Linked DNA regions of Homo sapiens: region 1 is linked to region 2. Evidence: fine-mapped expression QTL. A gene starts in region 2. The other region holds a variant in brackets. All regions are shown on one strand. Distances are between the middles of the regions. Region 1 has its middle 29 kb from the start of INSM2. Region 2 holds the start of INSM2 (INSM transcriptional repressor 2).

The links.
Region 1: its variant is fine-mapped to the expression of INSM2 in lung (TOPMed, PIP above 0.99).

What each region holds. Positions count from the first base shown.
Region 1 is chr14:35,496,983-35,512,756 of GRCh38, reverse strand. It overlaps the pseudogene KRT18P6. Among named protein-coding and RNA genes, the nearest start is that of INSM2, 29 kb to the left of the region's middle. The variant G/T (reference allele first, on the strand shown) is at 5,687.
Region 2 is chr14:35,524,953-35,540,726 of GRCh38, reverse strand. It overlaps INSM2 (INSM transcriptional repressor 2), which reads right to left and starts at 6,563. Exons shown (of 1, transcript NM_032594.4): 1 at 3,673-6,563. The coding sequence starts at 6,474. The coding sequence ends at 4,774. RALGAPA1 (Ral GTPase activating protein catalytic subunit alpha 1) reads left to right here. Exons shown (of 42, transcript NM_001346249.2): 42 at 1,037-2,371. RefSeq lists enhancers at 4,474-5,296, 5,467-5,616, 5,297-6,120, 6,121-6,944, 6,945-7,769 and silencers at 6,577-6,946, 7,047-7,126.

The DNA.
Region 1 (15,774 bases), 28 kb after region 2:
AAAATGCAGGAGCACCTGCAGAAGAAGGGACCCCAGGTCAGAGATTGGGGGCATTACTTCAAGAACATCAAGGATCTGAGGGCTCAGATCTTTGCAAATACTGTGAGCCATGCCTGCATCGTTCTGCAGATTGACAGTGCCCATCTTGCTGCTGATGACTTTAGAGTCAACTATGAGACAGAATGGTCATGCGCCAGTCTGTGGAGAGCGACATCCATGGGCTCCACAAGATCACTGATGACACCAATGTCACTCAGCTGCAGCTGGAGACAGAGATGGAGGTTCTCAAGGAGAAGCTGCTCTTCATGAAGAACCACAAAGAGGAAGTAAAAGGCCTACAAGCCCAGATTGCCAGCTCTGGGTTGACTGGGGAGGTAGATGCGCCTAAATCTCAGGACCTCAGCAAGATCATGGCAGACACCTGGGCCCAATATGACAAGCTGGCTCAAAAGAACTGAGGGGAGCTAGACTACTGGTCCCAGCAGTTTGAAAAGAGCACCACAGTGGTCACCACGCAGTTCGCCGAGATTGGAGCTGCTGAGAATACACTCACGGAGCTGAGACATACAGTCCAGTCCTTGGAGATCGACCTGGACCCAATGAGAAATCTGAAGCTCAGCTTGCAGAACAGCCTGAGAGAGGTAGAGACACGTTACCCATGTAGATGGAGCAGCTCAATGGGATCTTGCTGGCACACACGGGCAGAGGGGCAGCACCAGGCCCAGAAGTATGAGGCCCTGCTGAACATCAAAGCTAAGCTGGAGGCTGAGATCACCACCTACCACCGCCTGCTGGAAGACAGGGAGGACTTCAATCTTGATGATGCCCTGGACAGCAGCAACTCCATGCAAACCATCCACAAGACCACCACCTGCAGGATAGTGGATGGCAAAGTAGTGTCTGAGACCAATGACACAGAAGTTCTGAGACACTGAGCCAGCAGAAGCAGGATACCCTTTGGGGAACAGGAAGCCAATAAAAAGTTCAGAGGTTAAAAAAAAGTCCTTCTGTTAAACCCAAAAAAAAGTGGTTTCCACCACCTTTAAAGTCAGTCCTGTCTAGTATTAAAAGTACTTACAGAAAGCTGGGTGTCCAGGCATGGTGGCTCACACCTGTAATCCCAACACTTCGGGAAGCTGAGGCAGGTGGATCACTTGAAGTCAGGAGTTCAAGACCTGCCTGGCCAACATGGTGAAACCCTGTCTCTACTAAAAATATAAAAATTAGCCCGGGTGTGATGGTGCACGCCTGTAGTCCCAGCTACTGGGGAGGCTGAGGCAGAAGGATCACTTGAACCTGGGAGGTGGAGGCTGCAGTGAGCAGAGGCTGTGCCACTGTGCTCTCCACTTGCTCCACCACCTTCTTTACCAACTACCGGTCCCTGGACAACAGAGTAAGACTGCATCTCAAAAAAAAGAAAAAAAGAAAGAAAGCTGGGTGTGATGGCTGGCACCTGTAATCCCAGCTACTCAGGAGGCTGAGGCAGGAGGATCACTTGAGGTTAGGAATTCAAGACCAGCCTAAGGAACATAATGAGACCAACCCCATCTCTGGGGAAAAAAAAAAAAGAGAACCGAAAGGAAATTTTATATATATATATATGGAAAATTATGTAAAATATACATTTCATAATTTTATTAATTATAAAATAATTATTTAATATATGAAATATAAAAGGATACATATATCCTTTATCTTAGGGGTCCCCAACCCCAGGGCCATGGACCCAGGCCACATAGCAGGAATTGAGTGGCAGGAAAGCGAGCATTACCACCTGAGCTCTGTCTCCTTTCAGATCAGCAGCAGCATTAAATTCACGTAGGCACACGAACCCTGTTGTGAACTGCACCTGTGAGAGATCTAGGTTGGTGCTCCTTATGAGAATCTAATGCCTGATGATCTGAGGTGGAACAGTTTCATCTCAAAACCATTCCCACCCCCACCCCTGTCCATGGAAAAATTGTCTTCTATGTAACCAGTCCCTTGTGCCAAAAAAGTTGGGGACCACTGCTGTATCTTTTTTATTTTATCCAAAAAGCTGCAAATAGCATTTGCTATAATATATTACAAGACTTATAATACTATTATCTAGAAAATGTACTTTTTAGCCTTTCTTTCTGTAGAATATTAGGGAAAAATCGATGAGATAATTAAAAAGGAAAAAGTGGAAATATTCATGAAATAGGCAGAAACAACTATTAAGAATAGCATTTTAATTCCTGGCATGAGGTTTTAAAGCCCAACATACAAATTTAATTCCTCTTTTAGTACAGTGTTTTTAGTATAATAACACCTTATGACTCAAGAACTGTGTACCTCAAAGTAAATGAAATTGAGGTTCAAAGATATTTCAAGCCATTCAAAATATGAAGGCACCCAGTGACTATAAATTACTAAACTTCTGGCAATCTGTCTCTTTTCCTGACATCCGATTAAAGTTTTATCATATATGGCTATTAATTATTGTTTTGAGCATGGGCTTTGAATTTCACTGAGTTCACCAGCTCTAGACACTTACAAATATGTTTTGCTATAAATTACTGGCACTGTTTCTGTTGATATTCAGCATAATCAAACATTTGTAAGCATGCTGTCTTTTCAATCTGTTCAGCTGATGCACTTTACCTGATCTTTCATTAAAGTAATCAAAACACTTGCTGTGTCGCATCTAATGAATGTTGCATGTATGATTAAGTGCTTTCATTCATATTGCAAGTTTGATTTAATGTAATCTGCCTTTCAGACAGCCATTAGCCTAGTTCCTACATGAATTCGATTAATTGGCTGAATTCTTCCAGATGTCCATTAAGCATTACAGGAATTTCTATGTGGAAACAGCAGGGACTGTCTAGCACAGAAGCAAACAATGAAATGTTATATTGCTGCCATGACTTACAAAAAGCTGGATTCATTTTCATTAATAAAACATCTGTACTCCTGCACAGCTATGCATTGACATGCATTTATTTTATATGTTTATTTCTCTTATGACCGTAAAAAGATAGTTAAACAGAAGCACATTTACTGAAATATAGACCCTGAGTTTAACAGATGCTGATTGACAAAACAGCTCAATTTTTAAGTTTATGGTAGGTCCTAAACGGAAGAAAGTACACTAACAGACACCTGTTTGAAACAGAATTAAAGAACGTCTGGGATTATACCAATAGAAATAAATGTATTAAAATGACATTAAAGGCTGATTTTGAAAATTATTTGATTGTCCTATCCACTCCCAAATCCGTTGGATCTCTTTAACAGAACAGGTCAAATATATCTCTTGCTGGGATGTTCTTTAAGTAGTTGTATCTTCCTCTCTCTCTCTTTTTTTTTTTTTCTTTTGAGACACAGTCTCACTCTGTCACCCAGGCTGGAGTGTGGTGGTGCAATCACGGTTCACTGCAGCCTCAACCTCTCAGGGTTCAGGTGATCCTCCCATCTCAGCCCCCCAGTAGCTGGGACTGCAGGCGTGCATCACCACGTCTGGCTAATATTTGTGGAGTTTTTTGTTTTTGTTTTGGTTTTGGTAGAGATGGGGTTTCACCTTGTTGACTGGGCTGGTCTTCAACTCTTGAGCTCAACGGATCCGCCCACCTAGGCTTCCCAAAGTGCTGGGATCACAGACATGAGCCACCGCTCCTGGTCTTTCTACTTGGTATGTTTTGTTTTGTTTTTTGTTTTGTGTTATTCGAAATGAACAGGGAGAGATTTAGCCTTGAGCAGATCCTAGCTCAGTGCATTTTACCACTTAATACATGCTATTTACAAATCATTTGGGAGATTTACCACAACTAATAATTGAAACAAAAGGTAAGTTTGAAAACAAGCCAGTTTTACACAGGGACAGTTATATATTCTCTAACGTCAAATGTTCATCTTAAAATTAAGAGTACCACACAAATAACTTTTTGTGTTATTTACAAGGATCTACAAATTGGTGCTATCAATTAAAGCTGAAAATCTTATGTTTCATTTCATAATTATATCTCCATTTCATAATTATAAATCATCCCTGCTATAAAGACATATAGTATTGAATTTTTTTTTTTTTTTGAGACAAGGTCTCACTCTGTCACCCATGCTAGGGTACAGTGGCATGATCATAGCTCACTATAGCCTCTAACTCCTGGGCTCAAGTGATCTTCCTGCATCAGCCTTCCAAGTAGCTAGGACTATAAGCGTGCACCACCATGCCAGGCTAATTTTTTCTATGTTTTATAGAGATGGGATCTCCCTCTGTTACCCAGGCTGGCCTGGAACTCCTGACCTGAAGTGATCCTTCCACCTCAGCCTCCCAAAGTGCTGGGATTACAGGAATGTGCCACCATGCCTGGCCTGTAGTGTTGAAATTTAAAAGTAAAATGCCTTTTATCCTTTCTTTACACAATTAGAGACAACATATATACTTGGAGAGAAAGAGAGAAAGTATTTGGGAGGCCAAGGCGGGTCGATCACCTGAGGTCAGGTGTTCGAGACCAGCCTGGCCAACATGGCAAAACCCTATCTCTACTAAAAATACAAAAATTAGCCAGGCATGGTAGTGGGCGCCTGTAATCCCAGCCACTCGGGAAGCTGAAGCATGAGAATCGCCTGAACCCAGGAGGCGGAGGTTGCAGTGAACTGAGATCCTGCTACTACACTCCAGCCTGGGCAACAGAGCAAGACTCCGTCTCAAAAAAAGAAAGAAAGAAAAGAAAGAGAAACATTCCCATTATAAAACATGCATGCAAATCATTAATCATAATATAAATTTATAATTGAACTTTGAAATTTCAAGTTTTACCTGAAATAACTTCTCTATTAGTAGTTTCTACTTCATTGGAGAATTTTTTTAAGTGATTATTACCTACTAGTTTATCCTGAGTAGGTAAAGCTACAGTAACTGAAAGAAGGCCTGTTTTAGGATCAGATCATCAGTCATATATGCCATGTTAATAAGATGATGCCAATTGGGTTTCTATGATGGGGCTTAAATAGGCAATATCAGCCTTGACCAGATTTGTTAGTCAATTTTTTCAGAAAAGAAAATCCTATAAAGGAAAATACTAGTCTTCTTGTTGGTCTTGGTGCTATAATCAGGCTTAAAAATACTAAGCTTTAAAAATATTTGAATGTACCTTCTTTTTCACAGTCATTCAGCAAAAATTCATCGGACACCTACTATGGAAATATAAAGACATATAAGTCACAATCCCTGCACTCATAAGAGAAAGAAAATAGCTAAGTGTATTACATGAAAAGTACCATAATAAAAGTCATTTAAAGTCCTATGACAGCATTAAGGTGGGAGTACTCCCCTCAGTTCCTCAAGCTTCACAGAGGAGTGAACATTTGTGCTATATCTTGAAAGATGAGTAGGAATAAGGTAGTCAAACTAAGAGAAAGGATTGGAGAGTAATAGGGTACCTCAAGCACCAGTAGGGCATGCTGTCATGGGGGTGCATTACTCTCCACTCCAGTTGTTTCCTTTCTTGTCAAGGGACATCCATTAGAGCAATGGTCCTGGACTCTTTCCATCCCTTCACTCATCATTTCTTCCCAGTTGTAGAGGAATTGCTTATTTTAACTAATGAGTTAGGGAGCAGGAACTTGGTATGCTTGACTCAGCCTCAGCCACTTCCTTCCTCCCTCCTCTGTCTGATAGACCTGGTCTGCTCTTGGCCTTACATAAGCTTAGAAATAATTG[G/T]TTGCTTATGAGAGATGAGGCCAGTAGTTATCCTGTTCTTCCTGAGACAGGATGGGTAAGTATGTCTAATTCTGGGCTTCAGAATTAAGAAGGCTTTTAGTTTCCATATATAAGCCACATTCTCCAATCTAGGCATTGTTGGTAATAATAGTGATATTTTGTTCTCAAACTGCCTCCTTCAGTTGGTTTAGAACTCAGGCAAGGAACTGGGATGCTATTTGTCGTCCACCCCCTCTTCTCCCCCAAAAAGAAAAACCCTCAAGTAATGTAGAGGCCTAGAGCCATGAAAATCGTGTATTCAGAGTGTTGAAGCATAAAGTGATTGAGAGGAAAGGTGAGAAATGAGACTGGAAAAGTGAGGCCGGATTGTGAAAGACACCAAGCCTTGACAGGAATTCGCTGAAACACTTTGTTACAATGTATAAAGATGGAGATGATATGTCGGAAACTGGCCAAATGCCCAAACAGAGCTTCATTAGATGCGATCCCTTGCTTCTCAGACAGTGACTTTCCAGCTTTATTAAAGTACATTAGAATCATTTGGAAGCCTTGGTAAAATGCAGATCTTGAGCCTCATCTTTAAAGATTCTGATTTAGTATAAGTACAATATGAGTCTCAGGAATCTGTATGTTTAACAAGCTCCCTAGATGATTCTCATGCCATAAATTTTAACTTTTCTTGGCGAAATACTGTTCGAGGGTCTGAGCTAAAACTTTATCATTCTAGAAATTCAGTTTTGTCAGAATAGTCAAAAATGTTCAGATTCATAATCAAGCCCCTGAGATACTTAAATATAAACTAGAGTGCTGACTGATTTAAGTTTAATGCTGACTGATTTAAGAATTAATTAATTAAGAATTTAAGTTTAATGCTGACCGATTTAAGAATTAATTAATTAAGAATTTAATGCTGACTGATTTAAGAACTATAGCTTTAAAAGGACTGGGGTCCTTGGGGCTGTAAAGAACACATCCTCTCTCTGTGGGAAAATCCATATGGGAAGCCACACTGTAACCAAAGATTGCTTGATCACTTTGGATTCATGGCAGTGAGAGTTAGTTGGATCACCATTACTAATGGCATCAAGCTTGTCTGATGTATCCATCTTCACTGTTGAGAATAGACTTGCAAAGGGGATTGGAAGCTGCTAAGGGGAGTGGAAGTTGCTTCCTCTGCCCAGGGCCATGCTGAAGACACACTGAGAAATTCCTGCTCTTGGCCTCTCCTTTTTCTAGTCTCCTTTTTTAACACATTTTTCAGGTAAGATTAAATATAATTGACAAGGTTAAAGATTTAGATATACTAATACAGACACATTTTCTTGAAAATATACTTGTTACCTTGAAAAGAGTTTAGATGCTCCTAGAACTCTACCATTCACAGAGTATTGGTTAGGACTAAATATTTCTATAAATGAATATAAGCTTCATGATGTCAGGGACCTTGACTTCTGGTTCACCACTTTATCCCAAGTGCTTAAAATAGTACCTGACATAAAAGAGTAGTCAATAAAATATATATTTTTGAATAGATGATTAGCCTCATCTATTACATTTTTATTCTTTTCATTTTAATTTTTATTCTCAGAGGCAAACCAATTCCAAAATCTGGGGCTACCTTGCCCCTGCCGCTTATGAATTAACCACACACCTCGACGAAATGCCTAAAGCAAAATCAGCTGCTTTAAAAAAAAAAAATTTGGTTTTTTGTTTCTCACTACTACACTAATGAGGATTAAATTTTTTGCCTTTGTTACACTTTTGTGATTGGGATGTAACATGTTGTCAGAATCTGTTTTCATTTTTACCATCAATCTCTGAGTTTATGTTTTGTGAGTTCCCAACTGGTTAAAAAGAATAGGAAGTCTCTGCTTGCTCAAGAATAAAAAAGAAGAGAAATGGAGATGACTAAATACCATTTCTTCTAGTATTTGTGATAGCCAGCTAAATCTAACGACTTTTTCCTTGACGTGTAAGTGAATATCACCAACCTTCTTCAGAAAAAAAATGTGAGGGGAAGTTCTTTAGCTTCTGAGCTTAAGAAATGTTGATAAATATTTGAAAATTCAACTAATTAAAAATGAAATGCAGCCAGCTAAGCTCCAGTCATTTTTAATTTACAATATTGCTTTGCTTTCGAGGCAATGTAGACAAGTCACAACTTCTTTTGATGCCTGAGGGATTGAAAAAATTAAATCAGCAGGATTGGCTATTGATGTTTTCTAGCAAATGTTTTGAAATCTCTGCCTTTCATCCATCTTGTAGGAAAATAGGATTGCTTTCTGAGCCTTCAAAGATATTAATTCCTTTAATAAATCCTTACTTATGTGTTGAAAACTTCCCACAGTTAGGTTTCTGTAGCAATCTCTACATCGGGGTAAATGTTGCCCGCAGGCAGACTCCCAATTTTTTTTCCAAGTATCATCACTCTTGGTCTGAAACTGGGGCTAACCAACATTACAACAGATTAAACATACCTTCTGTTCAGCCTCTTTTCATAAGATTTCTTTATTATATTCTTTGCAAGGCAAATTTCGTGACAGGCTGTTTGCCTTCCTGGTGATCAGCACTTAATGAGATAAAGCACAAACATAAGCAGTGACTGTCCCAGTTTTGTACTTTGATCCCTGCCTCTCTAACCAATGTGAAAAAAGATAGAGAGCTACCTGAGATTCTTAAAATGCAAAGAATATTTGTCATATAGTAAACCAATCAGAGCTTCATTCAATAACAAGAATAAAAATTGAATATAAGAAGTTAAAAACAAAGCATAGATGTGTGCATGCATGAAAGGTGGGCTTGAGGGGGAAAGGAAGTTGACCATATTGTGAAGATTTTGTGTAGAGCATCTATCTATTTCTCTAATACTTTTCACAACAACAATTGTAGAAAGATAGTAGAAATGAGAAGATAGTACCAAAACTATCAGATGACCCTCTTGAGGACAGCATTATTTCAGAGAGTTTCTTTTATTAAAAGGAGGAAGCATTTATGATGTTGGTTTAAATGTTGTTCTGAGACATTCTCCTTGAAATTCCTGCTTAAGGGATTTAATATTAATGTGCCTCTGCTTAAAAAAAAGTATAAAGTTTTCTCTTTTTTGTCCAAGCCTAAAAAGAAGAATGATAAATAGACTGGCTTTTGTGGGAAAGAAAGAAGCTCAATAATGACAAGTAAATGAGCTAACACCTTTTCCCTGGAGACTAAAGAGGGAGGGACTAGATAGCTTCTGACTATAGAAAGGGAGACGACAAAGGAAAAAAAAATTAGTGCAGTGAGCAGTATTAGGAACGTTTTGAGGGACAGTTTGAGAGCCTGCAACACAGCAGGGTATAGCGTTTCTTTTTCATGAAGAGTCTTTATCTAGCATCCTTGAATTAATAATTTACTTTAGGCTGGTATTTCCTGAAAGTTAAAAATCCTAAGGTTATGAGCCCTAAATAAATAAACAGTATTGTCTTAATACTACTGACCATGAAACTATATATTTAAAGATAAATTTTAGTATTCCATTTTTTCCTATTAAGGTGTAATAATGAAAAATTAAACATTACATTAAATATTCTATTTTTAGAAAAAACATGTTCCTAATTATGTATATAAATGGATAGAACTAGAGATACATATATGTATATGTAATAAGCACGTAATTAGAAAAACTAATCAGGTGTGTACCTTCCTGTTGTCAAAGTCTATCATTTCTTTAAATAGCATGGTCTGCCTTTATTGAGGAAAAATACATAAAAATAAAAATATTAGAATTCCTATAAGTAAATTTTAATTTCATTATTCAAGATGGATCTATGCTTACACTTTACTATAATGCCATCCATAATGGTTTACTCAATGTCAAAAATATATATTATCCTTGATAATTGAACTCTAGAGATCTAGTTGCTAGTTTTTTCCTTTTGCTACTCACCCTCAGTTTCTGATTCCCCAAGTCTGAGAAGAGTTATGAGCATCTCTATTTTTTTATTTTTATTTTTGTGGGTATATAGTAGGTATAAATATTTAGGGGGCTCATGAGATATTTTGATACAGACATACACATCAGGATAAATGGGGTATCCATCCCCTGAACATTTATGCTTTCTTTGTTTTACAAACAATCCAATTATACTATTTTAGTTATTTTTAAATGTACAATAAATTATTGTTGACTGTAGTCACCCTGTTGTATTATCAAATACTAGCTCTTATGGGAGTATTTGGTATTTGGTATTGGAGTATGTACATATGAATATATGTACAAAAATATATTTTTGTACGCATTAACCATCTCAACTTGCTTCCCACTCCTTTCTACCCGTCCCAGCCTCTGGTAACCATCATTCTACTCACTACCTCCCACAAATGAGTGAGAACATGCGAAGTTTGTCTTTCTGTGCTTGGTTTATTTCACTTAGCATAACGTCTATCAGTTCCATGCATGTTGTTGCAAATGAAAGGATCTCATTCTTTTTATGGCTGAATAGTACTCCCTTGTGTATATGAACCATATTTCTTTATCCATTCATCTGCTAAAGGACGCTTAAGTTGCTTCCAAATGTTGGCTATTGTGAATAGTGTTGCAATAAACATGGGAGTGTAGGTGTCTCTTCAGTATACTGATTTCCTTTCTTTGGGGTATATATCTAGCAATGGGATTGCTGGATCATATGGTAGTTCTGTTTTTAGTTTTTTGAGGAACCTCCAAACTGTTCTCCATGTGGTTATACTAACTTATATTCCCAACAACAGTGTACGAGGGTTCCCTTTTCTCCACATTCTCACCAGCATTTGTTATTGCCTGTCTTTTGGATAAAAGCCATTTTAACTGGAGTGAGATGATATCTCACTGTAGTTTTGATTTGCATTTCTCTGATGATCAGTGATGTTGTGCACCTTTTCATATACCTGTTTGCCATTTGTGTGTCTTCTTTTGAGAAATGTCTATTCTGATCTTTTGGCTATTTTTAAATTGGATTATTAGGGCTTTTTTTTTTTTTTTTTTTTTTTGCCCTATAAAGTTGTTTGAGCTCCTTTATATTCTGGTTATTTATCCCTTGTCAGAGGGAGAGTTTGCAAATATTTTCTCCCATTCTGTAGGTTTTCTCTTCACTTTGTTGATTGTTTCCTTTGCTGTGCAGAAGAAGCTTTTTAACTTGATGTGATCCCATTTGTCCATTTTTGCTTTGGTTGCCTGTCCTTGGGGTATTACTCAAGAATCTTTGCCCAGTCCAACGTCCTGGAGAGTTTCCCCAATGTTTTATTTCAGTAGTTTCATAGTTTGAGGTCTTAGATTTAAGTCTTTAATCCATTTTGATTTGATTTTTGTATATAACAAGAAATAGAGGTCTAGTTTCATTTTTCTCCATGTGGATATCCAGTTTTCCCAGCACCATTTATTGAGGAGACTGTCCTTTCTTCAATATATGTTCTTGGCACCTTTGTCGAAAATGAGTTTACTGTAGGTGTGTGGATTTGTTTCTGGGTTTCCTATTTGTTCCGGTGATCTGTGCTTTTATGCCAGTACCATGCCGTATACTCTAATGGTTTAAAAACTATACTACTATATTACTATAGCTCTGTAGTATAGTTTAAAGTCAGGTAATGTGATTTCTCCAGTTTTGTTCTACTTCCTTGGGATAGCTTTGGCTATTCTGGATCTTTTGTGGTTCCATATAAATTTTAGGATTGTTTTTTCTATCTCTGTGAAGAACGTCACTAGTATTTTGACAGGGATTGCATTGAATCTGTAGATTGCTTTGGGTAGTATGGACATTTTAACAATATTGATTCTTGCAATTCAGGAACATGGAATATCTTTCCATCTTTTATATCCTCTTTAATTTCTTGCATCAATGTTTTAGTTTTCATTGTAGGATCTTTCACATCTTTGGTTAATTTCTAGATATTTTATTTGTAGCTATTGTACATGGGATTGTTTTGTTGATTTCTATTTCAGATTTTTCACTGTTGGCATATAAAAATATTACTCATTTTTGTATGTTGATTTTGTATCCTGCAGCTTTACTGAATTTGTTTATCAGTTCTAATACTTTTTTGGTGGTGTCTTTAAGTCTTTCCAGATGTAAGATTATATTATCTGCAAACAAGGATAATTTGACTTCTTCCTTTCCAATTTGGATGCCCTTTACTTATTTTTTTATTTTATTTTATTTTATTTTATTTTATTTATTTTATTTTATTTTATTTGAGGCAGGGTCTCACTCTGCCACCCAGGCTGGAGTGCTTTGGCATGTTCATAATTTACTGCAGCCTTGACCTCCCAGGTTCAATTCATCCTCCCACCTCAGCCTCCCAAGTAGGTGGGACTACAGGTATGTGCCATCACACCTGGCTAATATTTTGTAGAAATGGGGATCTCACTATGTTGTCTAGGCTGGTCTCAAACTCCTGGGTACAAGTGATCCACCCACCTTGGCCTCCCAAAGTGCTGGTATTACAGGTGTGAGCCAGTAATGGCTGTGCCTGGCCCTTTATTTCTTTTCTTGTCTGATTGCTGTAACTAGGACTTCTAGTACTATGTTGATGAAAGTAGGCATCCTTGTGTTCTAGATCTTAGAGGAAAGTATTTCAGTTTCTCCCCATTCAATATGATGGCAACTGTGGGTCTGTTCACATACGACTTTTATTATGTTGAGGTATATTCTTTTTATATCCAGCTTTTTGAGGGTTTTTATCATGAAGGGATACTGAATTTTATCAAATGCTTTTTCAGCATCAACTGAAATGATCATATGGTTTTTGTCCTTCACTCTGTTGATATGATGGATCCCACTGATTGATTTGTGTTATGTTGAACCATCCTTGCATCCCTGGAATAAATCCCCCATGGTTATGATGAATGATCTTTTTAATGTATTGTTGAATTCAGTTTGCTAGTATTTTGTTAAGGATTTTTGCACCAGTGTTCATCAGGGATATTGGCCTGTAGTTTTCCTTTTTGCTGTGCCCTTGTCCGGTTTGGGTATCAAGGTAATACTTACCTTGTAGAATTAATTTGGAAGTATTTCCTCCTCCTCTATTTTCAGAATAGTTTGAGTAGGATTGGTATTAGTTCTTCTCTAAATGTTTGGTAAAATTCAGCAGTGAAGCCATCGGGTCCTGGGGTTTTCTTTGCAGGGAGACTTTTTCTTTTTCCTTTTTTTTTTTTTTTTTAGGAGAGGAAGGGGAGAAAAGAAGAGGGGAGGAACTGAGAGACTTTTTTTTTTTTTTTTTTTTGAGACAGAGTCTCACTCTGTTGTCCAGGATGAAGTATAGTGGCACTATCTTGGCTCACTGTAACATCCACCTCCTGGGTTCAAGCAATTCTCCTGCCTCAGCCTCCTGAGTAGCTGGGATTATAGGTGCCCACCACCACGCCCAGCTAATTTTTGTATTTTTAGTAGAGATGGGTTTTTGTCATGTTGGCCAGGCTGGTCTCAAATTCCTGACCTCAGGTGATCCGCCCACATTGGCCTCCCAAAGTGCTAGGAGTACAGGCATGAGCCACCATGCCCAGCCTGGGAGACTTCGTATTATGGTTTCAAGCTCGTTATTTCTCATTGGCCTGTTAAGGATTTAGATTTCTTCATGGTTCAATCTTGGTAGGTTTTATGTGTCTAGAAATTTATCCATTTCTTCTACATTTTCCTGTTTGATTGCTCATAGTAGCCACTAATGATCCTTTGAATTTCTGCAGCATCAGCTGTAATGTCTCCTTTTTCATCTCTGGTATTAATTTGAGTCTACTCCTTTTTTCTTAGTCTAGCTAAAGGTTTGTCAATTTTGTTTATCTTTTCAAAAAATCAGCTTTTTACTTTGTTGACTTTTCTATTATTTTCTCCATTTCAATTTCATTTATTGGCATTCTGGTCTTTACTTCTGCTAATTTTGGGTATGGTTTGCTTCTGCTTTTCTAGTTATTTAAGATGCATTGTTAGGTTGTTTATTTGAAGTGTTTCTACTTTTTAAAATTTAGGCACTTATAGCTACAAATTTCCCTCTTAGTGCCTTTGCTGTGTCCCACGGGTCTTGTTTTTTTGTTGTTTTTGTTGTTGTTTGTTTGTTTTTTGAGATGGAGTCTCACTCACTCTGTTGCTGGGGCTGGAGTGCAGTGGTGCAATCTCAGTTCACTTCAACCTCCTCCTTCCAGGTTCAAGCAGTTCTCCTGCCTCAGCTTCCCAAGTAGCTAGGATTATAGGCATGTGCCACCATGTCCAGCTATTTTTAATAGAGACAGGGTTTCACCATGTTGGCCAAGCTGGTCTTGAACTCCTGGCCTCAAGTGATCTGCCCACCTTAGCCTCCCAAAGTGGTCTGCCCACCTTAGCCTCCCAAAGTGGTGGGATTACAGGTGTGAGCCACTGTGCCTGGCCAGTATTCCATAGGTTTTGGCATGTTGTGTTTCTATTACCATTTGTTTCAATACATTTTTAAATTTTCTTCTTCATTTCTCATTGACCCACTGGTCATTTAGGAGCATGTTGTTTAATTTCATGTGTTTGTATCATTTCCAAAATTCCTCTTGTTATTGATTTCTAGTTTTATTCCATTTTGGTCAGAGAAGATACTTGATGTAATTTTAATTTTTTTGAATTTTTTTAAGACTTGTTTTGTGGCCTAACATATAGTCTGTGAGAATGATCCATCTGCTAAAGAGAAGAAAGTATTCTGTACCCATTGGAAGAAATGTTCTGTAAATATCTATTAGGTCCATTTGGTTTATAGTGCAGATTAAGACTAATGTTTCCTTATTGATTTTTTTGTCTGGGTGATCTTTCCAATGCTGAAAGTTGGGGGGTCTCCAGGTATTATTGTGTTGGGTCTCTCTCTCTAGGTTGAATAATATTTGCTTTATATGTCTGGGTGCTCCAGTGTTAAATGCATATGTATTTACAATTATATCTTCTTGCTGAATTGACCCCTTTATCATTATATAATGACATTTTTTATTATAGTTTTTTGTCTTGAAATATATTTTGTCTGATATAAGTATAGCTACTCCTGCTGTTTTGTTTTTTTTGTTTGTTTGTTTTTGTTTTCCATTCTGTAACCTTCCTGTATTTTCATGGAATATATTTTTTCATTCCTTTATTTTCAATCTCTGTATGTCTTTACAGGTGAAGTGTGTTTCATGTGGGCAGCAGATCGTTGGGTCTTGTTTTTTATCCATTTAGCAACTCTATCTTTTGACTGGAGTACATTTACATTCAATGTTATTATGATATGTAAGGACTTACTCCTTCCACCTTGTTTTTTGTCTTGTGGTTGTCTTATGGTCTTCTCTTCCTTCTGTCTTTCTTTCTTTCCTGTATTCCTTTCAGTTACAGTGATTTTCTCTGGTGGTATGTTTTAATTACTTGCTTTTATTTTTTGTGTCTCTGTTGTATGTTTTTTTATTTCAGGTTACCATGAGGCTTGCAAATACTATCTTATAACTCATTATTTAAAACTGATGACAACTTAACACTGATTACATAAACAAACTGACAAGCAAAGAGAAAACTAATAAAAACTCTACACTTGACATTTTTTTCCCTGCTCTTTAACTTTTTGTTGTTTCTATTTATATCTTATTATACTGTCTATATCTTGAAAAATTGTTGTAATTATTATTTTTGATAAGCTCATCTTTTAGTCTTTCTACTCAAGATATGAGTAGTTTACATACCACAATTACGGTGTTATAATCTTCTGTGTTTTTCTGTCTACTTACTATCACCAGTGAGTTTTGTACCGTCAGATGATTTCTTATTACTCATTAATATCCTTTTCTTTAAGATTGAAGAATCCCTAGGCAAGGCACAGTGGCTGACGCCTGTAATCCTAGCACTTTTGGAGGCCAAGGCAGGTGGATCACCTGAGATCAAGAGTTCGAGACCAGCCTGGTCAACATGGTGAAACGTCGTCTCTACTAAAATTACAAAAATAAGCCGAGGCCGGGCACCGTGGCTCGCGCCTGTAATCCCAGCAGTTTGGGAGGCCAAGGCAGGCAGATCACAAGTTCAGGAGTTCAAGACCAGCCTGGCCAGCATGGTGAAACCCTGTCTCTACTAAAAATACAAAAAAATTAGCTGGGCATGGTGGTACACACCTGT
Region 2 (15,774 bases):
CAGAAAATCTGGATTAAAATGCCTTAAAATATCCAGAATCTCTTGCTGTTATTGTTTTCAGATTTTTTTTTCTGAAGGACTTTTATTTTTAATGTGATTTTAATTAATTACTCATTTTGTTTAGGAAATATTTGAAAGCCTACAGTGTGCAAGGTTCTGTAGTATTGCTGCATATTAGAGAATGATAATTTATAGAAATAAAGCACAGAGATGAAAAACTACTTTATAAATGACACAAAGAACTTTCCTATTTGATTTTGTTTTACTTCTAAAATTGTATATCTACTAATTCTACTGGTTACCTGCTTGCTTATGATTGAATAAGATACCTGCAAAAGTTTAAGTTAATGAAAACAAAAGCATTGTTTATGTCTTTTAAATTAAGACATTTTGGGGGAGTCAGTTTGCCTTTTTTTAACTGACATTCAGAGGAGAATTCTTGTCCTCCCCTCATCCACAAATTTATCTTGCTCCTTCTTAAAGCCGTCTTTAAATACCTAGCATGTATATGATCTCATAGTGCTGAGTTCCTTTTTTTGTTTTGTTTTGTTTATAAGGGCATCTAGTGAAACTGACTTCCTTTTTGAAACCCGTGGTTCCAAAACTGTTTGGAACTGTTTGGTGCTGTTTTTCAAGTTTGAGTAGTGAAGGCTCTTTTCTTGGTTGTACCCTGAATCCTAGAGATAGGAATTGGTCCTTCTCACCTGCTTCTTGACCCCTTCCCTGCATGCTGATGGTGCTTTGGATCCCTGTTCTTTCTGGCTCAAAGATTTTGCTTCCCACTGCTTTTTCCAGGGTTCTAGCCCTGGGAATGATGATTGGCGCTTTCTTGCTAATATAATGACATGAGCCACCAGATTGCTGGGTTTTAAATACATTAGTAGGCTATTGTAACAAGCAAGTTTGGGGCTTGCTTTTTCCCTCGAAAGATCTTATTAAGGGATGGGATCCTTGCTGCAGATTAGTAGCAGAAAGATTATTTCTCAGGGGATGAGAGGCTGGATAACTGTAGTAATGCTCTTGCTGTTTCCTACAGGCTCCTACCCAGAGATTCTACCCAGTGAAACTCCCACAGCAACGCAGGTAGATGGGGCTGACCTGGCCTCTCCAATGTCTCCTCGAACTAGCAAAAGCCGCATGTCCATGAAGCTGCGTCGTTCCTCTGGCTCAGCCAATAAATCCTAAGGAGACAAGCAGCCCAGCAGTGATCAGCAGTAGCCACCTTAGCACGAACATAGGGTTAACCCTTTCAGGCCTTCATGTCTGCCATAACATGCATGTTTCTTCCTGTACATTTATTTGAGAAAACACTGGATTTAAATAATTTTAAATAATTTGTAGCTTAATATTAAAGATTTAAGTTATTTATTGTTTCATTTTTTTTCCCACAATCCAAGCTGCCATATTTTGAGGGCAGGGGGAGTTTTATTCTACACCCTTTACCTTCCTAGATAATTATGTCTAAGTAGTTTTATCTTTAATTTCATGGTTAACTGTGAGCCAAAATACAATTGGACAATTAGTCTCATTATTTATTGTGCCCCATTGCAACTTTATGGTTCAATAAATATATAATTTTTTACAAATGTAAAATTTTACATTTAAGCATTTGTAAAGTTACAGCAAAAGATGTACCTGTTAATACACAGAATGTGTACAGATTATTTGTTATGACAATAAAACACTCAAAATAAATGGTCTTTAGCATCTCAAATTCCAACTGAAATCATTTTAGTATTAACTCTTCTTCCCAAAGCAATGTCTCATTTCTTGGCTGTGCAGGTGATGCCATGTTATATCCAATAACTAGAAAAATCACTGTGCTGAACTTTTATGTTTAGCTTCCAAGTATTTTTCTAATGTTTTGCATTTCAAGTGGTATCACTGTTAAATGCCATTTGTTTTCAGATTGTGGCCTTTTATTATTGGCTGCTAGATCCTGGTGTTTCTATGTTCTTTTTTAAGCACCAAAAAGAAGATGGGGAAGAAAAGAAGGAAAATTTTCTGATATAAATATGTTGTTCAAATTATGAGTATTATTTAAAAAAGAAAAAGGAACATAACCCAGGAGTCTAAGTTAAATCTAATATTGTTAATACTGAACTTGCAGGTCCAGGTTGGTATACATTCCACCCTCTAGAAGTATTTTCTTACAGTAGATAAGCTGCTCACATTTTGTTTTGAATGGGCATCTCCTGAGGAAATGTAGCATGACATTGGTACTAACTGCATGTGTAAATACATCATACTGGCAAACCGTAAAATATAAATTATGTATCATCATTCATGTAGTATCTATAATTTGTAACAGTGGGGGGGAAAGATGACATGGTATTTAATAATACAATAAAAATATTCTTATCACTTCCTATCCATGAGTGTTGATTTGTCTTCTATGTTTCATATATTTTCAATAAGCAGGGCTATATGAGTAGTGAGGAGATTTAAAGCATGAACCTAGATTATCTTAGCTAATCATCAAAAATAAACTTGAATTCCCTTTTCAAGATACATTCCAACTTATTTCTCACAGATCCTACCACAGTCGTTAAAAACACAGGAAATTTTCTGTCTTCATAAAGGCTGGCCAGAAATTCACCCAATGCAGTTGGTTAGATTGTTAGTTTATCTCAGCTTCATGTTTTTGTTTTGTTTTGTTTTGCTTTTTGAGACGGAGTCTCCCTGTCACCCAGGCTGGCGCGATCTCGGCTCACTGCAACCTCCGCCTCCCAGGTTCAAGCAGTTCTCCTACCTCAGCCTCCTGAGTAGCTGGAACTATAGGCGTGTGCCACCACGCCCGGCTAATTTTTTTGTTTTGTTTTGTTTTTTGTTTTTTGTTTTTTAGTAGAAACGGGGTTTCACCGTGTTAGCCAGGATGGTCTCCATCTCCTGACCTCGTGATCCGCCCACCTCGGCCTCCCAAAGTGCTGGGATTACAGCTTCATGTTTTTTTGATTCTTAAATTTTACTTTGTTTTATAATATACTTTCAGCAATAAAACTTCGTACTAACAAGTTTCTAAGACAATCTTTCAGAAATTCTGTGCACCCAATTTCATTTTCTTATAAATGAAAACTAAAAGTCCTATGTAAGCTGATGTAGAAGATAAACAAATGGATAGAGTCCTTGGGAAGAAGATTGAACAATGTAGACAATTTCCTACAGCCAAGGTGAAGAATTACAAAAAGGAAAATCAGAGTAACTGCATACATGTTTCTAAAGTGCTATAAAAAATCTAATGGATTGATGATATATAACAATATGGAGTAAAAATACAAACCTGAAATAATGAAATTAATTAGCACCATTAAAATACTTCTTTTCATCTTCAGGTAACACTGTTCACTAGCTTGAAATATATATATATATATATTTAAAATATGTTTTCGGTTGACATTTCTTGGGGGGGATGTCTTTTTTAGATTCAAAGACTAGTGCATATTCCTTGCTTTTTGCAGCTCAGTCTTTGCAGCCATACTTCAAAGGAAAATTTTTCATTGCATTCCTGCACCATCACATTCATTTGCAAAATATTTCCGTCTTTGTATTCTGTCCAAATGGGTCACTAACATTCTAAAACAGGATACCGACATTGGGGAGATAAGAAATGTGGCTTTGAAAATAGGCTGTGTTCAACAGGATTCTTAAGACAAACACAGAACACAACAAAAGCACAGTCTATGTACATTTATTTGGTGGTAAGCATCTTACAAATACGGGCTTTCTGTCAGGCAGTGCTCAGCCAATGTCCCAAACTGGCTAGTAGGGAATTAGTACACAATGTACACTGAAATGGTTTTTTAAAAAAATCAAAAACAAGTTGCCGCTGAAAAGAAAATACTGAATATTGAGCAAATTGCCATTCAGTTCCTTAGTGGATTACAGGTGTTAACATCTTCCTTAAGCTGTACATATTTTCATAATGAATACACAGTATGACATTTACAGCAGAAGCATTAAACAATTTGGGTGAAACCCCATTAAAACAGTCAAACTTGAGGAAACGACTTCTGTATTTCCAAAAAGCCATTTAAAGAAAGGTTTGAAGTAGCTCTTCCTGAATACTGCCCACAAAATAGCTGAGGGTGAGAATTTTAGGGGGTGTCTCAACTCCAGTAAAGTAGCATCCTCCCCACCTCCAAACACCAACTTAAGAATGGACATGTACATATAATTGGGCAAAGGAAAGTTTACAGGGGAGATCCCCATGCACCCCAAAAGCAGCAAAAATCCTCTTACATTTTCTGCCAGGTCTTGAATCTCCTTAAGTTTGACACCAATCACATAACTTTTAATTCACAGAATATACAGTGCAAAATATCTGACCCTATTGAGACAGAAGCTGTATAGGCGCCTGTGATGACAAGACAAAAAAAACATTGGCTACCAAAGGGTAGCCAGAATCCTTTGTGGACATTGAGACATGCACGCATTCACCGCGACTTTCCATAGGAATTACAAATCATATAGGATTCGTTAGGGTCTCCAGAGTTTTAAGGGGAAAAATCCTATTTTAGTGGGGAAAGTGAGAAGGATTTAAAGCTGACAGTCTTTGATCTCAAGGTTTATACCATATACATACCTGCTCTAGAGAGGGATATTACATTTCACTGTCCGCTCCTCTGGTGGAACATTGACTACAGGGAGAATTTTAGGGGATTAAAACATAGGAAGGAATGAAAGTAAACTTGCAAGTTGAAGAAAGCCCCACAGAAATTCCCATGATCTGTTTCCTCTAAGGCCAACCTCGAAATCATCCTGGTCTCTCGTCCCTCAGCAGCCAGGCCGCAGTGGCATCTGCAGCAGCAGCACTTGCCGGCTTTCTGAGGGGTGGCACTTATTGATGTGCCGGGTCAGCCCTGGAGAGCTAAAAAAAGTGGACGGGCAGTGCTTGCACGAGAAAATTTGCTGGGCACTCCCGTCAGATGGCCCGCTAGGGCCCGACGTTTCGGGAGGAGCCCCCGCCAGAGCGGGCAGGAGCAGCTCCTCGCGGACAGCATGCCACAGCCGGTGCTTCTCCCTGATATCTGCTGTAGGGAAGTGCGCTCCGCACAATGGGCAAGCGAAGGCAAGTGGGGCACCGCGTTCGGAGCCAAAGCCCGGCGCTAGCGCACGGGCCGAGCCCGCCTCGTGAGTGCTCAGGTGCTTGCGCAGATAGGCTTGGCGACGAAACTTTTTGTGGCAATATGGGCACACGAAAATCTCGGATCCCCTGCCACCACTGGTACTGCCCGGCACAGGTACCCGGCGCCCCAACACCCCCTCCGTGTAGGGGCCCTGAGGCAGCGGTGGCTCTGGATGCGTCAGCACCTGGAGGCCCTGCCTCGGGGCGCTGTCCGGGTGCTGATCCGCCCCGGAGCTGTCCCTGGCCTGCGGGTGCTGATCCGCAGTCCGCTCTATTCGGCTGTTCTCCTTTCCCTCCGCCAGAAAAGATGCAATGGCCCCGGAGTCCCGGGAGGACGAAGACGACGAAGAAGGCGGCTTCCCGTCGGCGGAGGAGACTGTGGCGGCGTTTGCAGCCGCAGGACGCGGCTTATGCCAGCGGCGATGGGAGGCCAGGTTCGCAGGACAGCTGAACACCTTGTCGCACTCAGGGCAGCGGTACTCTACGCGCACGATGCGGGAGCAGCGGTGCTGGGCCAGCGCGAAGGGGTCTGCGTACTGCTCCTTGCACAGCTGGCAGATGAACTCCCCCAGTGGCGTGCGGCTGCCCCCCAAGCCCCGGGACGGCGCTCCGGGCTCCTCCTCCTTGATCTTCAGGCCCAGGACAGGGGATGTGGTCACCTCATCGGCAAAGCTCAACTTCCTCATGGCCTTTGGCTTCTTGATTCCCGCGGCCGCGGGTCCAGACGCGCAGTCCGTGGGTGCCTTGCCGCGGCGCTCGCCGCCGGCCGCCCGCTTCAGACTCTGAAGGGCGGCCGAGAGGGGCGCAGGGTCCGGCTGAAGCGCGGGCTCTGGGAACGGCGCCCGAAGCGGCAGCAGAAACTGCTCCCCCGGGGTCGGTGCGGCTGCTGGCGCCACGGAGCAGGAGAAAGCGGCCACGGCGGCGGCGCCCCCGGGGAAAGACTCGGCGGAGACGGGCGAGCTGAGGCAGCGCTCCAGGAACGCCCGACGCAGCTCTGCGCCTGCCGGCTTCGCTGGACTGGGGCTGGGGCTGGGGCTGGGCCCGGGACCTTCCCTGCCACCCGCCCGCCACTCCGCGCCTTCCCGCCCGCCCGTCCCCGGGCTCACCCCAGCCGCCCGACATGGCGACCCCGACTGTTCCCGGGCCGCCTCCGCCGTCAACCCCTTTCCTGGTTCCTCTCGGGTGGGGGGTGTCGCCCGCTCCGCGCCGGGCAAGGAGGCGCTGGGAGCCTCCTCCAAGAAGGGCGGCGCCCCCTGGGGCCCCAGCAGAGGGAAGACACGCTCCGCAAGGCGAACTCGGTACAAGCCGCCTGTCCGTTTAGTTCGCTTCACCAGGAATCCCCTTGGCATGGTGGAGTCGAGAGCGCTCTGGGACAAGAGGAAAGGGGGCGCCACGGGGACTGAGAGCCGGCCAGCAGATGAACTAGAAGAGCTTCGCCGCGGCTGTCATGCCGGGGCTATCTTTATAGCTGAGACGCGGGCCGGGGTCCCGCCGGGCCTCCCCGGGCTGGCCCGGCCAATCAGGAGTGGGAGCGGGCGCCGGGGGCGGGGCTTTCTCCCGTGCCGATTCACTGGAGTAGACGAATCTGGCGGCGGCGGCGGCGCACGCCCAGCCCCGCCTCACAGCGCCGCGAACCTGCCCCTGTGGCCGGCTGGGTCCGCCTCCCCCTGCAGCCTCCCGGGCGAAGACGCCAGAAGGTAAGGTCCAGAGTGTGAGGGAGCTCGACACTCCCCGCCTTGGCTGCCTCCGCGGAGCGTCCCACTGGGGAGCCGGGCGAAAAGGCCACCTCACGACGCCCTCCGCTCGGGCCGGGACCCGGCTGCCCCCAACGCGAGGGCGTCTGGCTGAAAAGCTCCCGCTCTGCGCCGGACGGCCGAGCGGAAGGGGCGGTGGGCAGAAGGTGCGGCGGAGACCACGGGGTGGGTGTCCGGGAGGGAACCGGTGCACGTCCTCTGCGGGTATTGAGCTGATGAGAAGTGCGACCGAGCGGCCGGACAGCTGACTGCACCGCCCTGTGGCTGCTGTCGGCGGCGGGAGCACGTCCGCCCGCCGGTATCGATCGGGCCCGCGCGCGGCGGCGACACTCGAGAGTTCATCTCCGCAGAAGGGCTCTCAGCGCGGGAGAGCGTGCCTGCCCGCCGCCAGCCTCCGAGTCGGGACGCCCGAGCGCGGCTGGGTCCTGGGCGTCTGCGCTCTTAAGTGCTTCTCGATAGGAGCAGGAGTAGGGAGAGGAAAGGAGGATCTCATTTTCCACTGTCCTCGCATAAAGTGGTTTCTCTGTTCACACTTTCCACTTGTACTACCCAGAGTATGACTTAATTCCTAACCGGCCTGTTTAGCATGGAGTAGATTGAGTGAGAAATGCCGGCGGAATCAGCATTACAGCTGCTTCCCCGTACACCACAAGTGATACTTTGCAAAAGGTGTGCTGTAGAGCAAACTCAACAGATTTTCATCTGGCACCCTGCAATGCTCCCACCACTATTTTGAGAACTAGAAGAGGTTTGAAAGTGTTTAGTAGTAATTGAACTAGGCAACAATTAGACCATCTATGACAGATATAAAGTGCCAAGATCCATAATATAGGTAAATAAAGTGTGAGAACAGGAAGGGGAAAGACTATGTGCACAAGTCTCCTTACTAAACCAAATTGGAGAAAAAGACTGACAGAGGTGTTTTAAAAGTACACGATAGCATAACAGATGTAGTCATCAATAAAACACATTGTCTTTCTTCAGTGAAGTATTTTTACAGGGAGAACATTATTTTGAGAAAGATTTGGAAGTAATTATATATTAATCATTGACTATGTTATAGGCATTCTGCTTAAGTAATCTCTAATCTTCATACACACGCACACAACATGTACACACACAAACCAAAAAGGAGATATTATTTCTCTCTTTTTTCAATGTGGTGATTGAGCCATTTAGTTAGATAATGGGTAAAAGCCAAGCAGAGCTCAGATTCAAACTTGTTCTGGCTAATTCCAAAGCCCAGACTCTTTCCACTACACCAATGGCTTCAAACTATTTTTTTCCTTAATCACATCCCACAATAATAAATGTGTTCTATAGTATATACACACATGTAACTGAAACAAAAGTCTCACAAAATAATACTGTGGGTCCTAATCTATTTGTAAATTATGAAATCATACATTGAAATGTTTGCAGTGCATTCTCATATTTTTCATTGTATTGTATTTTGTTTCTTAAAAATAGCAGTCATAGAAAATACATTGATTTCATAATTTACAAATGGATTAGGACCCACAGTTTGAAAAACACTCATTATATTGTCTCATTAAATAGCATGAAATGATACAAAATTAAATAAACCTGATACTGCATAATCACAATATCTGAACCACTGTTTAAAATATTTGAGTCCTTTAGCAGTGTTGGTAAACTTAGTTTCCCAAATTGGTCATTTCTGACATGTCAGCTTATATGTGACTTCTAACTCAAATTCTCAATTCTCCTTTCCTCCTCATGATCCATACATATTGTGTGGTGTGGAAAATCTGATGTAATAATTTTAATACTTTAAGATAACCCCTTTTCCAGAGAGAGAAAGGACTCTTCCCCAGGGGCATAGTACTTTGTAAGAATTGCTGTCAGATATTTTCTACCAGATCCGATAGTTCCAATAGCTCTCTCCTTCCCTTCCCAAGTGTAATTTAATAACATCCTTTCTGGAAATCATTGTAACAATTTACATCAGAAGCTTTAAAAAGTATGTATACATTTAATCTACCAATTCCTCCTTTAGTAAGTCATCCAAAAGAAGAGCGAAGATTTATGCACAAAGCTGTTTATCACAGTGTTATTTGTAATTATAAATAATCAGAAACCATCTTGAGTAAACTATAGTATAGCCGTGTTATAGATGATTACGTAGCTTTAAAAATGTAATGATAGAGACAAACATATATACCATAACTAAGCAAAAACAGCAGGCAGCAAAAGTTGCTTGTACAATAAAGAGCTCAGTTATGAAAAAAACGAAATGCATATAAGACAGTGGAAGGAAATATGCCAAAATGTTGTTGGGATTGCCTCTAGTAAGTAGGAATTCAAATAGTCTTTTTTTAACTTTTTTGTTAAAATATTTTGCAATAATCGTATATTACTCTGATAATCAGAAAAAAAAAAATTGCAAAACTGCCTTAAATCCTTTCTGGAGTTAAATGTGGTACCCTTCCCCTAGGATACTAGCACACTGCAACATCAAATGGAGAACTGTACAGATAAGTAGCATTCTCCAGGGCCATCTGTTTGAAATCTGGCCCTAGAAGAGAGTTGACAAGCCTCAATCATGCCACAGGCCTTCTAGTTGAAGAACACTTTTGGGAAAAGACTAAGGGTTAAAAGATAGAAAGGATTAAAATGTGGGGAAGAGAAAGAATTTAAATGCGTAATCCCCCCTTGGGTATAAACTTAGATGATCCTTCAAGATACAAACACTCTTTCTGTAGTTTCTCACTTAAAAATTACGATAAATAGGGCATTGCCAAAGCAAGATTATAAAATCTTTGTTTTATTTAATATCTACCTCCTTTCTCTTCACAAAAAGATTAAACATTCAGGACCTTCATCTGCTCTCAGTTATACTTTGGTAAAAACTCATACGCACTGGATTATCTCTCAAGCTATTTACATTTTCTGCTTTCTCTAATTGCGGGATACATTTAATTTAAATTCAGAAATTTTGAGACAATAGAAATCGGAACATTTTTTGAAGAGAGAGGAGACTTCTTCTTGCCCTGAAATCAGTGTGTATAAGACAGGCTCAGATGACTAACCTGCTTTTTATCACTTGAATATCTGGGAGATTACTCAGAAGGAACTTTATTTCTTCTGTTTCTCTGCCCCCTCACCTCCACTTAGACATGTCCCTGTAAAAGGTTAACACCAGCTGCAGCTACTACAGGCCCATTGTCCCTAGGAACTTGAAAGTCAAACAGTCTCTCACAAATCTAAAACCAAACTCTTGATTTCCTCTCCTAAACTTAATCCCCATCTCAGTTTTCCTCATCCCAGTAAATGGCACCTTCATTCAATTAGTTGCCTCAGCCAAAACCCAAAGACTTTGGGTTAAAGCTAAACACCCCATATTCAATCCATTAGCAGTTCTTATCAGCTCTATTTTCAAAGCATTTCCTGAATCTGAATCTTCTCAAATTCTCTACCACTGTTACTCTATTTGGTCTCTTGCTTCCATCCTTGCCTCCTTATAGTGTATACTTTATTCAGCAGCAAGTTGTATCCTATTAGAATATAAATCTGATTCTTTCACTCTTTTGTTCAAAATCTTCAAGTGGCTTCCCAACACATTTAGAATAAAATCCAAAGCTCTGCTTGGTCCCTGGATATTCTTAAACCACATCTCCCACTCCTCTTTTCCTCATTCAGTCTGCTCCATCTAAGTGGACACCTTATTTTCCTCAAACATGACAAGCACACTTCCACCTCAAGGCTGTTTATTCTGCCAGAATGTTTTTTCTTCAGATATGTTCACATCTTGTTTCTTAACTTCATTTGTGGATCTTTACTCAAATAATACCACCTGAGAAAGATCTTCCCTGACCACCCAAACTAAAATAACAGCCCTAACCCACCATCACCCTTCATCATTTTCTTCTTTTTCTCTACTGCCTGAAGGATATCTTCATCATTTTCTGTCCCTTTACTTTTTCTTCATAGCATTTATCACTATTTGCCACTGTATTATGTATTTGTTAATTGTCTGTTGTCTCTATAAAATCCAGGACGGTAGGTTCTTTGTTTTGTTCTCAGCTTCGTTTTCATCTGGTATCTAGATCAATGCCTGACATATATAAATGAATTGATGTCTAAAATCATAAGCTACCAGGTTCAAAAAAAAAGCATCACAGTTTCTTGTTACTGCAACCCACAGGCCTGAAGCCCACCCTGACTGAGTACAAAAGAAAGTATACAAAGTCATAAGGAGTTCTAGATCCTAGGCATTTGGGAATCTTAGTCCAGACAAATGAAAGGAATAGGAAAGTCTTTCTTGTATCATATGCCCTTGGAAGTCTTTTCCTCCCACCTCAGCCACTTGACCCATGGCTTAGATCACCACCATTTTCTTCCTCTGAAGCCATTACCTATAGGGAAAATAAACCCCAATTCATGACAGGAGCCTCTTATTTTAAGCTGTTTAGTACCCAGGATACTAGAAGAATGGGAGCAGAAAGAAGCGGTCAGCTACTTAGTAGGAAAGATAAGACTGGCAAGAGAAAACTACATGTTTAGGAAACAGGGAATTTTAGGCAAAAATAAGATGTACAGGATAGGATCCAGTTTATTGAGAAGTTCAATCTAGGACATTTAAAGGGAGGTTGTATAGGGTAGTTAGTTGAGGGCACAGGCTTTAAAGTTAGACAGTTTGAGTTTAGTAGAGTTCCAGCTCCACTACTAGCTGTTTAATCTTAAGCAATTTAGCCTTTTTAACCCTCAGTTTCCTCATCACAAATGGAAATAGAAATAATTATCTCACAGGGTACTTTGGGCATTACATGTTATTGTGTTTATAAAATACTTATCACAATGCATGGCACATAGTGAGTCTTAAATGAAAAGAGGGTGTTATTAAGTGTCTGAGGCGAAGGAAGACTATTGACACTAATGGCAACCCTAAATTCTTCAGAAATAACAATAATTTCTTGTGTGACTGGCTGATATTTTATACCCAATTATGATGCAAGACAGTAGTGATTATGCACACCATTTAATGTGCTCAAAATTAATTTTGTTTCATGTGGTTAAAACAAAATTCACAAAAGATGTAAAAGACAAAAGAAGGCAATGTAGTGTACTGGGTTATGCCCATGAGTTGGAGTCAGTCAGATCTGAGTTTGAATCTCGGCTCTGCCATTTTCTTATTGCGTGACTTAAACAGGCTGTTTAACCTCTCTGGCTTCAGTTTCTTGTCACATAGGCATGACAACACAGTACAGTATTTTCCATAAATGGGCCATCAGTCTGTTATTTTTGTCCTAAGAGGGTGTAAGGAGTGGAGAAGCTGAGACTGGAAAGATAAACTGGGGCAAGATTGCAAAGCCCATTATAACCACACTAAATTGAGTGCGGATATTTTTAAGTGAAAGCTACTGCTTTTTTTTAAAGCATTTAAATGATATAATCAAATATTTGCTTTGAAAAGAAAACTGTATGGCTATGTTGGAGCAATGCAGCTGTGAGGCTGAGGGAAAGATGTGGAGAAGGTAAGAAAGTGGGATGAGACTTGAGGCGTGAAGCTCAGCTGAACAAATATTAAAACAGTTGATAGAAGATGAAGTGGGCCTAATTATTCAAATATTGAATAGATTTAAATAATTGACTGATACACTCTATAATTATACTTATCTATGTTTTCCTCCCTGTATTGAGCAGTAAAATAGATAATACACATTCTAAAAACTTGAAAGCAGAGGGAATTTATAACGACTTTCATTTGGTCATGAAAGACTGTTGAGATTGAAATTCACTTCAGGACGTATAAGCAATGGGAAAATAGTGAACTTGAACTAGAAGGAAAGGATTTTCAATAGCATAAGATGTCAAATAGAAGAGGCTTTTTAATTTCTTTATGCTGGGTACATGATAGTTCTTTACTCTCAGCCATTCTCACATTCCAAATCACTAGCACTAACTGTGTCTTCTAAGACAGCTCTCTCATCAAACTATTTTAGCCACTTCTTTGGCTCAATATGTAATTCTACTATATTGCAGACACTTAAACGTTTGTCAATGTTGTACAAAGATAGCTTCCTAATATTATTAGAGATCCTCCGATAGGAATGCTTACCTCCCTACTTCCAGCCTTAAACGAATAAGTATTTTCTGGAGCTGGCTCATTGCTAATAAAGAGTAGATTCGAATCCTAGCACTGTCATTTACTAAAGAGGTGATCTTCGGCTGGGCGCGGTGGCTTATGCCTGTAATCCCAGTGCTTTGGGAGGCCGAGGTGGGCAGATCACCTGAGGTCAGGAGTTCGAGACCAGCCTGGCCAACATGGTGAAACCCCATCTCTACAAAAAATACAAAAATTACCCAGGCCTGGTGGCACTTGCCTGTAATCCCAGCTACCCAGGAGGCTGAGGCAGGAGAATCACTTGAACTCAGGAGGCGGAGGTTGCAGTGAGTCGAGATCACTCCACTGCACTCCAGCCTAGGCAACAGAGTGAGACTTCATCTCAAAAAAAAAAAAAAAAAAAGTGGGGGCTGATCTTAAAATTTTTGCTCAATCTCTCTGTGTCTTAGTTCTTTTCCCCACATTAGGCATAATAATACCGACATAATAGGATGAGAGTTAAATTAAAGGAGATAAACTAGTATCCTCTACAGAGCTGGCTCTTACCAAGTGCTCAACATTGGTGTGTTTGCATTGCTTGTAATAAGGGTAGAGCCTATCTAACCTGCTTTTATGTACACAAATAATGTGTTATATGTGTTCCAAATAAACACTTGGGAATAATGAAAATTGCTACCTGGCTGGACGGGGAAAAAGCCATGTCAACTTTTATCTATATCTATATATTTATATTTAAGATTCCATTCACATGCTTGAAAAGAATGTATATTTTGCAGTTGTACATACCAAGTTTTATATTATGCCCACCCCTCCACATATATATGGTAATTTATGTTATTTCTCTTTATAGTCTCTCAACTTTTGCTATATAAAATCTTGAGACTTTCTCATAGTCTTAAGATTCATATGAATGAAAAACAATATCCGTTTGGTTAATTGAAACCTCTCATAAGTATAAAGTATCCCTCTTTATCTGTACTAATGCTTTCTGCCTTAAAGTGTTTTGTCTGATGTTTTCCTCTAGACATATCAGCTTTCTTTTCGTTGGTGTTTACAAGGTATGTATTTTCCTTTTAATTTCAACCTTTCTTTATTATTATGTTTCAAATGTGTCTCCTATTAGCTGTTGGATTTTTTTTAACAGTCAATCTTTAGCTTTTAACTGAACCATTTAGTCCTTTTACATTTCTTGCTACTATATTTAGAATTAAATATGCCATCTTCCAAAGTGCTTTCATTTGTCTGATCTATTACATTTCTTCTTCTCTCCTTTTTGTCCTCTTTTAGATGGATATCTGATTTTTATGTATCAAATCCTCCTCTTTACCAGTTTAAAATTATATTCTTTGTATTATTTTATTGATTACTTTTAAAATTATATTACACATTTTTAATTTGTCAAAATTTAATAATATAAGGAAGTCAGAACACTTGAACTCCATATATTCTTTCCTGATTTGTATGCTATTGTTGTGTATTTTAATTTTGTATTTTTGAAAGTCCACAAGACTATTATTATTGTTTTATACACTTAAACACTGGATTTACTTAAACATTTTCCATTTTCTTTGCTCTTAATTCCTTGTATCTAAGACTTTTCATGTGAGATCATTCTCCTCCTACCTGAAATACATGCTTTAAAATTTCCTTCATTGTAGATTTGATAGTGGCAAAATATGTCTCCTCTAGTATATCTCAAATGTCATTATTTTATGGTAACTGTTTTGTTTCAGCACATTGAAAATAATATTCCACTGTCTCTTCTTTCCCATTTTTACTAGTGGAAAGTCAGCTGTTAGTATATTAGGACTCTTTTGAAAGTAATTTTCTTTTCTCTGGATTCTTTTTTTTTTGTTTTTTGTTTTCTTTTTTTTGAAATGGAGTTTTGCTCTTGTCGCCCAGGCTGGAGTGCAGGGGCATCTCAGCTCACTGCAACCTGCGCCTCCTGGGTTCAAGTGATTGTCATGCCTCAGCCTCCTGAGTAGCTGGGATTACAGGCACCCATGACCAGCTAATTTTTGTATTTTTAGTAGAGACAAGGTTTTGCTGTGTTGGCCCGGCTGGTCTTGAACTCCTAACCTCAGGTGATCTGCCTGCCTCAGCCTCCCAAAGTGCTAGGATTACAGGCGTGAGCCACCACGCCTGGCCTAGGTTATTTTAATATTTGTTTTTAGTCTTCAGTCTTAAGAAGTTTCACTTTAGTACACTTAGGTATGAATTTCTTTTCATTTATTATTCTTTCAGTTTGTAAGACTTGTTAAAATCAGTGCTTTGGGCCGGGCGTGGTGGCTCACGCCTGTAATCCCAGCAATTTGGGAGGCCAAGGCAGGCAGATCATGAGGTCATGAGATCGAGACCATCCTGGCTAACACGATGAAACCCCGTCTCTACTAAAAATACAAAAAATTAGCTGAGCGTGGTGGCAGGTGCCTCTAGTCCCAGCTACTCGGGAGGTTGAGGCAGGAGAATGGCGTGAACCTGGGAGGCGGAGCTTGCAGTGAGCCAAGATCGCGCCACTGCACTCCAGCCTGGGCAACAGAGCGAGACTCCATCTCAAAAAAAAAAAAAAAAAAATCAGTGCTTTGAAGTAATGTCAGTTTGAAAAATCCTCAGCAGTTAACTTTTCAGATAATTGCTTCTATTTTGTCTTATCTTTTTTTCTCCTTCTAGAACCCTGGCCAAACCTATGTTAGACATTGTCACTGTACCTTCTGTGTCTTTTTCCTTCTTATATATATTTTTTTCTTTTCTTTTCTTGCCTCTGGAATATTTCTTCTGATGTTCTTCAGGTTTACTAAATCTTGAAG